Regions from separate parts of the Homo sapiens genome. Here region 2 is linked to region 1. The links come from fine-mapping of genetic effects on plasma protein levels. Region 1 holds a variant in brackets. A gene starts in the other region. All regions are shown on their forward strands. Region 1 holds the start of LOC107987463 (a long non-coding RNA gene). Region 2 holds the start of CPA4 (carboxypeptidase A4).

Evidence for each region. PIP is the chance, under the fine-mapping model, that this variant and not a neighbour inherited with it causes the effect. The UK Biobank Pharma Proteomics Project read protein levels with antibody pairs (Olink). The fine-mapping took linkage between variants from a reference panel, not from the people measured, so its PIPs are less certain.
Region 2: CPA4 starts here. The variant in region 1 is fine-mapped to the plasma level of the CPA4 protein (UK Biobank, PIP above 0.99).

What each region holds. Positions count from the first base shown.
Region 1 is chr19:54,246,274-54,251,797 of GRCh38, forward strand. It overlaps LILRB5 (leukocyte immunoglobulin like receptor B5), which reads right to left. Exons shown (of 13, transcript NM_001081442.3): 13 at 3,148-4,659. The coding sequence ends at 4,513. LOC107987463 (a long non-coding RNA gene) reads right to left here and starts at 1,673. Exons shown (of 3, transcript XR_007067341.1): 1 at 945-1,673; 2 at 1-7. RefSeq lists an enhancer at 5,221-5,524. The variant A/C (reference allele first, on the strand shown) is at 2,586.
Region 2 is chr7:130,291,502-130,296,501 of GRCh38, forward strand. It overlaps CPA4 (carboxypeptidase A4), which reads left to right and starts at 1,660. Exons shown (of 11, transcript NM_016352.4): 1 at 1,660-1,747. The coding sequence starts at 1,680. RefSeq lists an enhancer at 2,065-2,154.

The DNA of each region.
Region 1 (5,524 bases):
CTCTGGGCTAGGTGAAGAAGGACAAAGTCTCAGCCCTGGGAACCTTAGAACCACCCACCCAGTACATGCGACTTTAGGGGAAAAAATGAAACTTGAAAACACACCCATATATATATATATATATATATATATTTTTTTTTTTTTTTGAGACAAGGTCTCGCTCTGTCGCCCAGGCTGGAGCACAGTGGTGCGATCCCAGCTCACTGCAGCCTTGACCTCATAGGGTCAAGTGATCCTCCTGCCTCAGCGTCTTGAGTAGCTGGGACCACGGGTGCACACCACCAAACCTGGCTTATTTGCATTTTTAATTTTTTTTGTAGAGATGGGGTCTCACCACATTGCCCAGAGTCCTCTGAAACTCCTGGGCTCAAGCCATCCACCTGCCTCAGCCTTCCAAAGTACTGCGATTACAGGCATAGTTGTTTTAAATACTGGATACACTTAAAAAGGCCCGAAGACGTTGGGCCGAATGGCTCATGCCTATAATCCCAGCACTTTGGAAGGCTGAGGCGGGTGGATTGCTTGAACTCAGGAGTTTGAGACCAGCCTCGGCAACATAGTGAGACCCCCCATCTCTCCCCCGCAAAAAAATAATTAGCCTGGCGTGGTGATAGGGGCCTGTAGTCCCAGCTACTCAGGAGGCTGAGGTAGGAGGATCATTGAGGATCTTGGGAGGTGGAGGTTGCAGCGAGCCGAGATCACACCACTGCACTCCAGCCTGGGTGACAGAGCCAGATCACGTCTCAAATAAAATAAAATAAAAAGCTCAAAGAATAAATTACTTGCACATACACTCATATTTATTCTCTTCTTTCTAGATTTTTCAGCTGGGACTTTCTGGAGCTGTTTTTCTAAGCTGACTTTCTTGTGTGTTTGGTTCCCCTTTGGTTGGTGCCCTGATCCCACCCTCGGTGGGCCCACAGGTTCCCCCAGTCCCTGCTCACCCAATGTCCTGTGTTTGCTCTGACGCCGACATTGGAGGAGGAGGACGAGCGGCAGGACAAAGGCCACTGAGACCCCGGTTACAACCCCCAGGTATCTTCCCAGACCTTGCGCGTGATGACGTCGGGAATGAGGATGACATCGCTGATGTGAGCACCTACTGTGTGCAGGCGCGTGCTGGGTCTTCATGAGCTCTAACCCTCACAGCAGTCGTGCAACGTGGGATTGCCAACCCCCCAACCCATTTCACAGATGCACAAACTGAGGCTCAGAGGGGGGAATCGCCTGCCCCAGGCCCCCCAGCCTGGAAGAAGCAGGTCTGGGAGGGGAACCTGGGACCTTGTGTTTTCCCCAGCTGTCCTCCTGCTGCCCCACCAGGTGGACACCTGCTTCCTGCTCTGGGTCTTCTCATCTGACAGCAGGGGCCTGTCTTAGTGTCTCCATCTGGGGCTGTGTCCTCCTTACAACCCTCCCTTCCCCAGCACAGCAGGGCCTGGGGGAGGGAGTGGGCTGTACAGGACGGACCCTGCATTGCTCTCACCCCCAGCCCAGCCAGGTCCATCTCCTACTCTGCCAATCCCTGACCTTCCCATGCAGAGCCTTTGACCACAGACTGAAGGGCTGCACTGTCGGCTTCTCGGCTTCTGAGGTTTTGGTACTCGGACTAGCTTCCTTGCTCCTCAGCTTACAGACAGTCTATTGTGGGACCTCACCTTGTGATCGTGTGGATCAATACTCCTTAATAAACTCCCCTTTATATATACATCTATCCTGTTAGTTCTGCCCCTCTAGAGAACCCTGACTAATACATGTTTCTGAAATACGCAGCCATAGAAGGAAATGAGAAATGAAACTTCCTGACACAGGCAGGAAACCTCAGGAAGCAGCGAGGTCAGAGCTGAGTTGGCTTCTGGTGACTTGCAATGTCAGGGAATCACTAAAAGGGAGGTTTCCGCCTCTATATGAGACAGAGGAGAACCCCAGGGCCCTCACAGTCAGGGAGGGGTTGGGGTTTTGGGTGAAAGTGGGAAGTTGTGGCTCCTCGTCCCCTGTGTTTGTGGATGGCACTGGGGTATCTCTGCTCATTGACTCAGGTTTATGGTCAGCCCTGAGCCTCCCCCTCTGTGTGTGTGAAATAGATTCATTGTAGAGTTGTCAGACATGAGGTTCACACTGGACCCTCCCCTGCTGGTTACAGGCCTGAGCAGACTCACAAGACCCGGGCAGGTGGTGCCGTCCTCCTCTTTTCAAGCCTAACGCCCAGTGCAGCCCTGGTAGAAACCCTCTCTGGCAGATGAGGCACTGGGAGATGAGTGTCCAAGAATGAGAAGAAAGAGGAATCATCCTAATGATAAAAAGTGCTATGACTGGCTGCCTGCGATGGCTCACGCCTATTTTCCCAGCGCTCTGGGAGGCCGAGGTGGGCAGATCGCTGGAGCCCAGGAGTTCGAGACCAGCCTGGGCAACATGGTGAAACCCCATCTCTACTAAAAAGACAAAAATGAACTGGGTGTGGTGGTGCACACCTGTAGTTCCAGCTACTTAGGAGCCTGAGGTCGAAGATCGCTTGAGTCTGGCAGGCGGAGGTTGCAGTGAACTGGGGTGGTGCGCCACTGCACTTTAGCCTGGGTGACAGAGCAAGA[A/C]CCTGTCTCAAAAACAAACACAGGCTGGGCGTGGTGGCTCACGCCTGTAATCCCAGCACTTTGGGAGGCCGAGGCAGGCAGATCATGAGGTCAAGAGATCGAGACCATCCTGGCCACACGGTGAAACCCCATCTCTACTAAAAATACAAAAAAAAAAAAAAAAAAAGATTAGCTGGTTGTGGTGGCGGGCACCTGTAGTCCCAGCTACTCGGGAGGCTAAGGTAGGAGAGTTGCTTGAACTCAGGAGACAGAGGTTGCAGTGAGCTGAGATCACGCCACTGCACTCTAGCCTGGGTGACAGAGTGAGACTCCGTCTCAAAAAATAAATAAATAAATAAATAAAAACAAAAAACAAACCAAAAAATCAAACACAAAGTGCTATGGTTGACAATCCACACTCACTAATGAGGATTATCATGGTCAAAAGGAGTACTAGGAATGTGTGAGACCCATCTTAGGTTAAACATGTTTAAATATTTGAGAAATACAGAGGACATTGAATTTCTGAGGCAGGATTATATGATTTTTTTTTCTACAGCAGAATGAATATTATATAAAATAATTAGAAGACATAGAAAAATCAGATTTAATGAACACAATCAAAATACTCATTCCTTCGAGGACAAGACACAGTGAAGCACCAATTATGAAATTAGAAAACAAAACAGAATTTTTTTTAGAGTGTAGCATAGAAACTTTATAAATTGCAATTTAAAGTACTTGGGAGAATAGAATGAGGAGGGGGAATGTCCTATCTATTGTAGGCGTCAGAAAGAAGGAAGAGAAAACGATGTCTAGCAATAGCCCAAGAGGTGAGTAGCTGAACATTTTATAGAGATGAGGAGAGACTAACTAAGGACTAGGGCGCATCCCTTTAAAATTGAAATGTATGGGCTGGACGTGGTGGCTCACGCCTGTAAGCCCAGCACTTTGGGAGGCTGAGGCGGGCGGATCACCTGAGGTCGGGAGTTTGAGACCAGCCTGACCAACATGGAGAAACCCTGTCTCTACTAAAAATACAAAAATTAGCCGGGCGTGGTGGCAGGTGCCTGTAGTCCCAGTTACTCGGGAGACTGAGGCAGGAGAATCGCTTGAACCCGGGAGGCAGAGGTTGCAGTGAGCCGAGATCACTCCACTGTACTCCAGCCTGGTGATAGAGCGAGACTCCGTCTCAAAAAACAAAACAAAACAAAACAAAAACCCTCACACAAAAACCAAGACAAATCCCCTTGACACAAGTTTATCTGTCTAACAAACCTGCACATGTATCCCTGAACTTAAAAGTGAAAAAAATAAAGGCAATATGTGTCAGATTTGTGGTGGTGTCTGCTGTTTCACCCCCATATGGAAATGTGTGCCTGAACCCCGCTTTTTTCCTTGCTTATTGTGGCTAGGATTTGTGAATGTAATTCACATTCTCAAGAATGAGCTTTTTTGGCTTCATCGAGTTTTCACGTAGCCCTCATTAGTAACTCCTCTTGTTATTTTTGTCCCCTTCCTCACACCTTCATTTGGAATAATTTGTTGTTCTTTTTCTAAATTCTTTCTGTCATTGCCAAGGTCATTAATTACGTAGGTTTTATTCTTTTCTAATTCATTCGCTCATTTGTAGTTTTCCGATTTCATCATTTAATGTGTAATATTTACATTATCATTCCAAATTTATACCATGCTCTAATTTCTGTTTCAGTTTTCTCAGCTCATTGATTTATTGAGAAGTCTGTGGCTTCATTTCAAAAATGCAAGGATATTAGTCATCTTTGACTGCAGAATCTAGTGAGTCCCAGAGTTCCCAGGATGTCCTGGTGGTCTTTGTTAGGGGTCCAGGCTGGCTGGGGTTCATTGGTGTCCACTGGGGGCAGCTCCTGTGCCTTCTGGAGTCTCTGAGTCTCCTTCTGTTGAGTATGAGATCTGGGTCCCCCGTGGGCTAGTGGATGGCCAGGGGGGCGTAGATGCTGGGTTCAGCTGGAGGTTCCCTTTCCTGGGATGGAGGAGGCTCAGTTGCCTCCCGTCTGAGGGTCAAGCTGTGCAGCTGGGCGTAGGTCACATCCTGGGGGGCTTCAGATGCAGCAGCCTGCAGCGGGGGAGAGTGAGAGGGAAGGAACGTGGTGGGGGTGGGGGAGGCCTGGGGGCCTGGAGAGGAAAGGACTCTCTCAGTGTCCATCTGTCTGTCCTCTTCTGCCTGTCTGTCCTTTGTGTCCAGGAATTCCCCAGACAGTGGGGAAGGAGGAGAGGCCATTTCTCTCCTAGGTCTGGAGTGTTTCACCGGGGCATACGTCACTGCCTGGGGGTCTTCATCGTGTGGGCTCTGCTGGAGAGAGACAGTGGTGGGGGGTGTCCTTGAGTCCCCCTGACCTCCTGGAGTCAATTTTCCTCACTGTTCCCGGGGTGATCCGATTACATCCCTTTCCTGATGGAATCTCAGGGACGCCCTAAGGCCGTGGAGGGTCTGGCCGCTCCCTCCCTGTGGTTCTGGCCTCTGCTCCTCACTCTGACCTTGCCCATTTGGCTGCAGCCTCACGGGCCTTCCCGCAAGAGCTCGCTGCTGCCTCGGGGCCTTTGCACGGCTGTTTCCTCTGCCTGCAGGGGCTCGTCCATCAGAGGATCGTGTGCCCCACTCTGTCCAGGCTTCTCAGATGACAGCTGAGCAGACAGCCCTCCCCTTCCATTCAGACTGGCCCCACTGCCCCACACTCTCTGCCCTTTCCCTGGTTTATGTTCCTTACAGCACGTTGCACTCCTGGACACGATGCATTTATTTGCATTTTGTCTCCCACCATGAGGTGAGCTCAGGAGGCGGGGGCGGCTTTGCTCCCTGCTGTGTCTGCAGCTCCCATGGGGAGCCCCATCCACAGTGAGCTCCCTGGGAACACTCGCTGGTTGAATGAATGAAGGGGAGCCTGGGGGACCGGGTCGGTTCATTTATTCCTCATCCTCCT
Region 2 (5,000 bases), not on the chromosome of region 1:
GATCTCAGTGACGCTGAGCCCACGCTTTGTGGTGGACAGGGTGGGTGTAGGAATTCAGTTGAAGTGTTGAGAGGACAAAAGGACCCTGAGGGAGCAAGAGGAGATGATGGCCCCTAGCTCCACAGCTCCTAACAAAGGCTCTCTCTGGGACCACACTTGAGATTCTGCACCCTCCTTTTGATTAGGCTGGTTCTTGAGCCCTGGCTAAGCCAGCCTGAGCAAAGATCCTGCGAAGTCATCCCTCCCACCTTGATATCTGATCAAGTTCCTCATCCCCACCTTTGATGGGGACTTTGATGTATAAGTCCTTGGCCTGCTTTTAGCAAGAATCCCCCTACCTTGATGTCTTCTCTTAGTAATCCCACTGATCCTCTCTGTTTTCTTTGCCGTATTCAGTGTTAAGCACAGTAAGTCTTTCCTACTGAAATAGCCATGGTCCTAATCATAATAATCTTGAATTAGGTCTTACATTTTAACACAGGTCAGGATAGTTTTTCTTTAACTCTCTCAACTATGACCCTTGGTTGTGTCCACTCCCTTTGAGTGGGTGTGGAAAGCATGTAGACCGTAGGGAGGGTGGGATGGGAAAGGCTGTGGGAACTGGGGCTCCCAGGACAGACTCAAAGGTCCCAGAGCCCCTGAAGGCGTTATGGAGATATGAGTGTCTTCCATTTATTCAGCTGTGACTTGGCGGAAAGGACACCAGACCCACAGTCTAGGAAGTATAAGAAAATCTTATTATTTATTTATTTATTTATTTGAGATGGAGTCTCACTCTGTCGCCCAGGCTGGAGTGCAGTGGTGCGATCTCGGCTCACTGCAAGCTCCGCCTCCCAGGTTCACGCCATTCTCCTGAGTAGCTGGGACTACAGGCGTCCGCCACCACGCCCGGCTAATTTTTTGTATTTTTAGTAGAGACGAGGTTTCACTGTGATAGCCAGGATGGTCTCAATCTCCTGACCTCGTGATCCGCCCACCTCGGCCTCCCAAAGTGCTAGGATTACAGGCATGAGCCACCTCGCCCGGCTGAAAATCTTATTATTGATAAAACCATTAAGCCTTCCCCATAGATCAGACCCCAAGGAACACTGATAATTTATTCAGACTAAAACATCCTTTCTATATCATTTGCCTGATACATTTCTATTTCCTTAGTGGAGTCAGAAGAATTAGGCTTCAGATACATAAAAGAGGCCCCAAACCTCTTTCCTCATCCTGACCTGCCCTGGTGAAATTCTCTGGCAGGGCTTGTCAAGCATGTGGTCTTGGAGCCAGCTCAGTCTTGCTTTGATAGTCTTAACTTTTTTATTATTATTCTAGAGGTAATTCTATGCCAGGTTTATAATCTGACCTCTCCTATCAGGATAAATTCCATCCAACACTGTGGAATTAGCTTATTCACTGAAAAAACACTATTTAAATGCCAAGTGATGAGCAATATGGTACCCTTGGCACAGACTTTTTCAGCTCCTGGAGCAAGTTCCTGACCTTGTAAATTGAGATGCTCAACCTTTATCACTTGAAAGGAATGGGAGAGGCATTGGTAGGGCCTGCCTGTCACAGTCAGAGTTGCAAGGGTGCTTGGGAATCACATTAGCATTTTTGAGGACTTGAGTCACTCTCAGACTCTTTATAAATACAGCTTGACTCAGCCACTGTATGACTGACTCCCCGGGGACATGAGGTGGATACTGTTCATTGGGGCCCTTATTGGGTCCAGCATCTGTGGCCAAGAAAAATTTTTTGGGTAAGTTCCTTTTGGACTTATTATTTGGTTATTTCAGAAATATGGGAGCCAAATGGAACTGAAAATGAATGGCTGATAATAGCTCACATGGAGGAAGAAGACCTGGGCTCTTGTTCCAGCTTTGCCCCTGTGTCATCCTGGACAAGTCCACTCTCTTCTCTGAGACCCCATTTCATCTGTGAAATCAGGACTAGATGATCATTGCAGTCTCTCCCCAGCTCCCTCATCTCCTGCCAGTTCTTTTTCTGCCTAGTTCTTACTTATAAGGTCAGTTCCAGGCATCTACTTTCTTACTCCTACCTTATTAATTACTAAGAGTTACTGGTTACTAAGAGCTACGTTATTAATTACTAAGAGTTACTGGTTACCAGAAATGGTTTGTTTCCAATTTCCGCCATGCATAAAGGGAAACCCTGGGTCTCAAGCTTGTTGGTTTCACTTCTTTGTTAATGGCGAAGGCTTTGCAGAGCTGGTGCCTTCTCTTGATCTGCAGTTTAATGCTCTACCCCTGAGCTACACCCTCTTCTGAGCTGGTGCTTTCTTACTGGCTTCTGGGACGTGGAGATTTCACAGGTCTTGCCTAGACACAGCTATGAAAATGACATGCAGAGACACATGCCTGAACACCGTGTGTGTGTGCGCGTGTGTGTGTGCACACACACACGTGCTCAACACGCTCCATGCAGAATACTTTGAGGTTTGCAGGGGAGAGGACATTTGGGTGGTAGGAGAGATAAAAGGGATACCATGGTGCCCTGTTAGAAGACTGAATTATAATAACTCATTACTGCATAATACTTTACCATTTGCAAAGAGCTTTCATGTACATTATCTTTTTGATCACACAACAACTTTGCCAGGCAGGGGTGTTATTTTCTTCCACTTAAACATGAAAAAAATCAGCCTTAGAATGTTAAGGAACGCGCTCAAGGCCACTTAGCTGGGAAGCAGGGGAGCTGGAACTCTGAACGTAAAACTCGTACCCTTTTGCTATAACACAAGTTCATCTCCAAATAAAATCCTATATCTCTTGGATCTGTCTCTTAGTTTTCTTTCTATTTTACTATCTGGCTAATGAGACTTTGGGGTTGTTTTTTGAGGTAATTACTTATATGAGATTGACTAAGTTTTATGATGATGACTTCTGTTCACACCTGTGTCTCTGTTGCCAAATAGCTCAGAGGGGTTAGGAGTGGCAGGTGGCCAGGGAAGATTTTCCCACAGGCGGCTCAGCAGTAGGTGTGTAGTGACTAGACTTGCTGCCGTGTGGGCTGACGCATGGAACTGTCAGGCTCCCACTGCAGCTATTCATGTGGCTGAAAAATCTCTATTTCGCAAGATACAGACCTCTCTTGCAATGTGGTGGGCACCTGGGCTGCGACAGCTGGGCCAGGCCCTAGAATGCTCTCTGCAGGAATTTTGCACAGAAAAAGCTGTGTGCCTGAGCTGACTGCAGATGGTTTGAACTGATAGTGTCATTCTCATCCCCAAATCCATTCTCACGCCATAGTAGGAAACCTAGCAAAGGTAGTGGAATTCTTCCTGGGCTCTCTAGAGGTGTCCCAGACACCCAGCTTTTAGAGCAAGGGGAACATTTAGAGCAAGGGGAAGCTGGCCTCTGAGCATTCAAGTGGTTGGGAAGCCAGGCTCTGGATTGGCTGCTGAAGATGAGGATGATGGTTTCTCCCCACCACCCACCACCCATTCCCCTCCCTTCCATCTGCCTCACCTATCTCCCCAGTCTCTCTTGCTCTACTGGAGTCTTCTGCCCTGGTCTTCAGAGATCTTCAGGATGGGACAATGGCCAGGATGCCTAGAGGCACCAGGCAGGCAGAGAACAGGAACCAGTTGCAGAGCTGGTTACAGCATCAACAGTAGCTGGCAGGCATCTAAGAGTTCTATGAAACCATCTCTTAATATTCTTTGTGGTGGCTGCTAAGCCTGGCTAGGGAGGCAGATGAGAAAGGCACAAAGGACGGGCCACTTGGCTGTCAGCATGGTGAAAGGGGAGGGATAGATGCTCAGTCACCAAAGTGGGTATTGACTGTCCAAAGCACAGACTCCTGTGAGGGTGAGGGAGTGGGAGTGCCAGCCATTGCAATGGCAGCAGCTGGACGCCCTGTCTATTGGAGAGGATCAAGTTAAGAGGAGCTGTGAGAACACCTGTGTGGAGCAGGAGGGGCAGACATGGCCACCTGTGAATCCCAACACGTCCCCCTCCCAGGCCAATTTCCATCTTCAGAAAGAGCTCAAGGTCTTTGAGTGAATTTCTGGATAGTGGAGATAGGATGTGCTCCACCATCTTGAGCCTCATGAACTGACGAGGGCATTTTTCAAATACAGACAAGGACAGTGAGGGCAAGAAAAAGGCTGCCCTTCGCATTGCACCCCGCAATGTCCTCCCTCCTTTCAGGTGTTGCTGTGCTTCTGTTCATAAGGATAATGCTACCGCTGGGTGCAGTGGCTCACACCTGTAATCCCAGCACTTTGGGAGGCTGAGGCAGGTGGATCACCTGAGGTCGGGAGTTCGAGACCAGCCTGACCAACATAGAGAAACCCCGCCTCTACTAAAAATACAAAATTAGCTGGGCGTGGAGGTGCATGCCTGCAATCCCAGCTACTTGGGAGGCTGAGGCAGGAGAATCACTTGAACCCCGGAGGCGGAGATTGCAGTGAGCTGAGATCGTGCTATTGCACTCCAGCCTGGGCAAGGCAACAAGAGCAAAAACTCCATCTGAAAAAAAAGGATAATGCTACCCACTACCACAACCGCCAATGTTCAGCACTATCTGAAGACTGTTAGGACTTTGCTTCCTCTGGTCAGGAAAAGCTTCATGGGTGATGTGAGTTGGTCCTAAAGATTAGATGGGACTAGATGGGCCTGACAGATGAGAAAAAGGATGGATTGCAGGCAGTGGGAACAGCGTGTACAAAAGCATACAAAAGTACGCGGTGAGTTTGGGCTGGGTCCGAGATGGGGCAGAAGGGAGAGGTGAAGAAGAGACAGATGGAACGGGCTTCACTCGGCACCCGCTCTTCTGCCCTGCCGCTTTGCATGCTACAGATATTTTGTTGACCTCTGTAGCTTGGCTGATTAGAGCAGGATGAAATGGGTTTGTGGATTTAATCATCCTCAGGGCCAGTCAGAGACACGGTGTCCCATTGTCCTGGGACTGCGCCCAGGAATGTCTACAAGTTCTGTTGTGAAGTCACCACTTTGGAAAAACTAAAACGCATGTGTTGGGTGAATGCG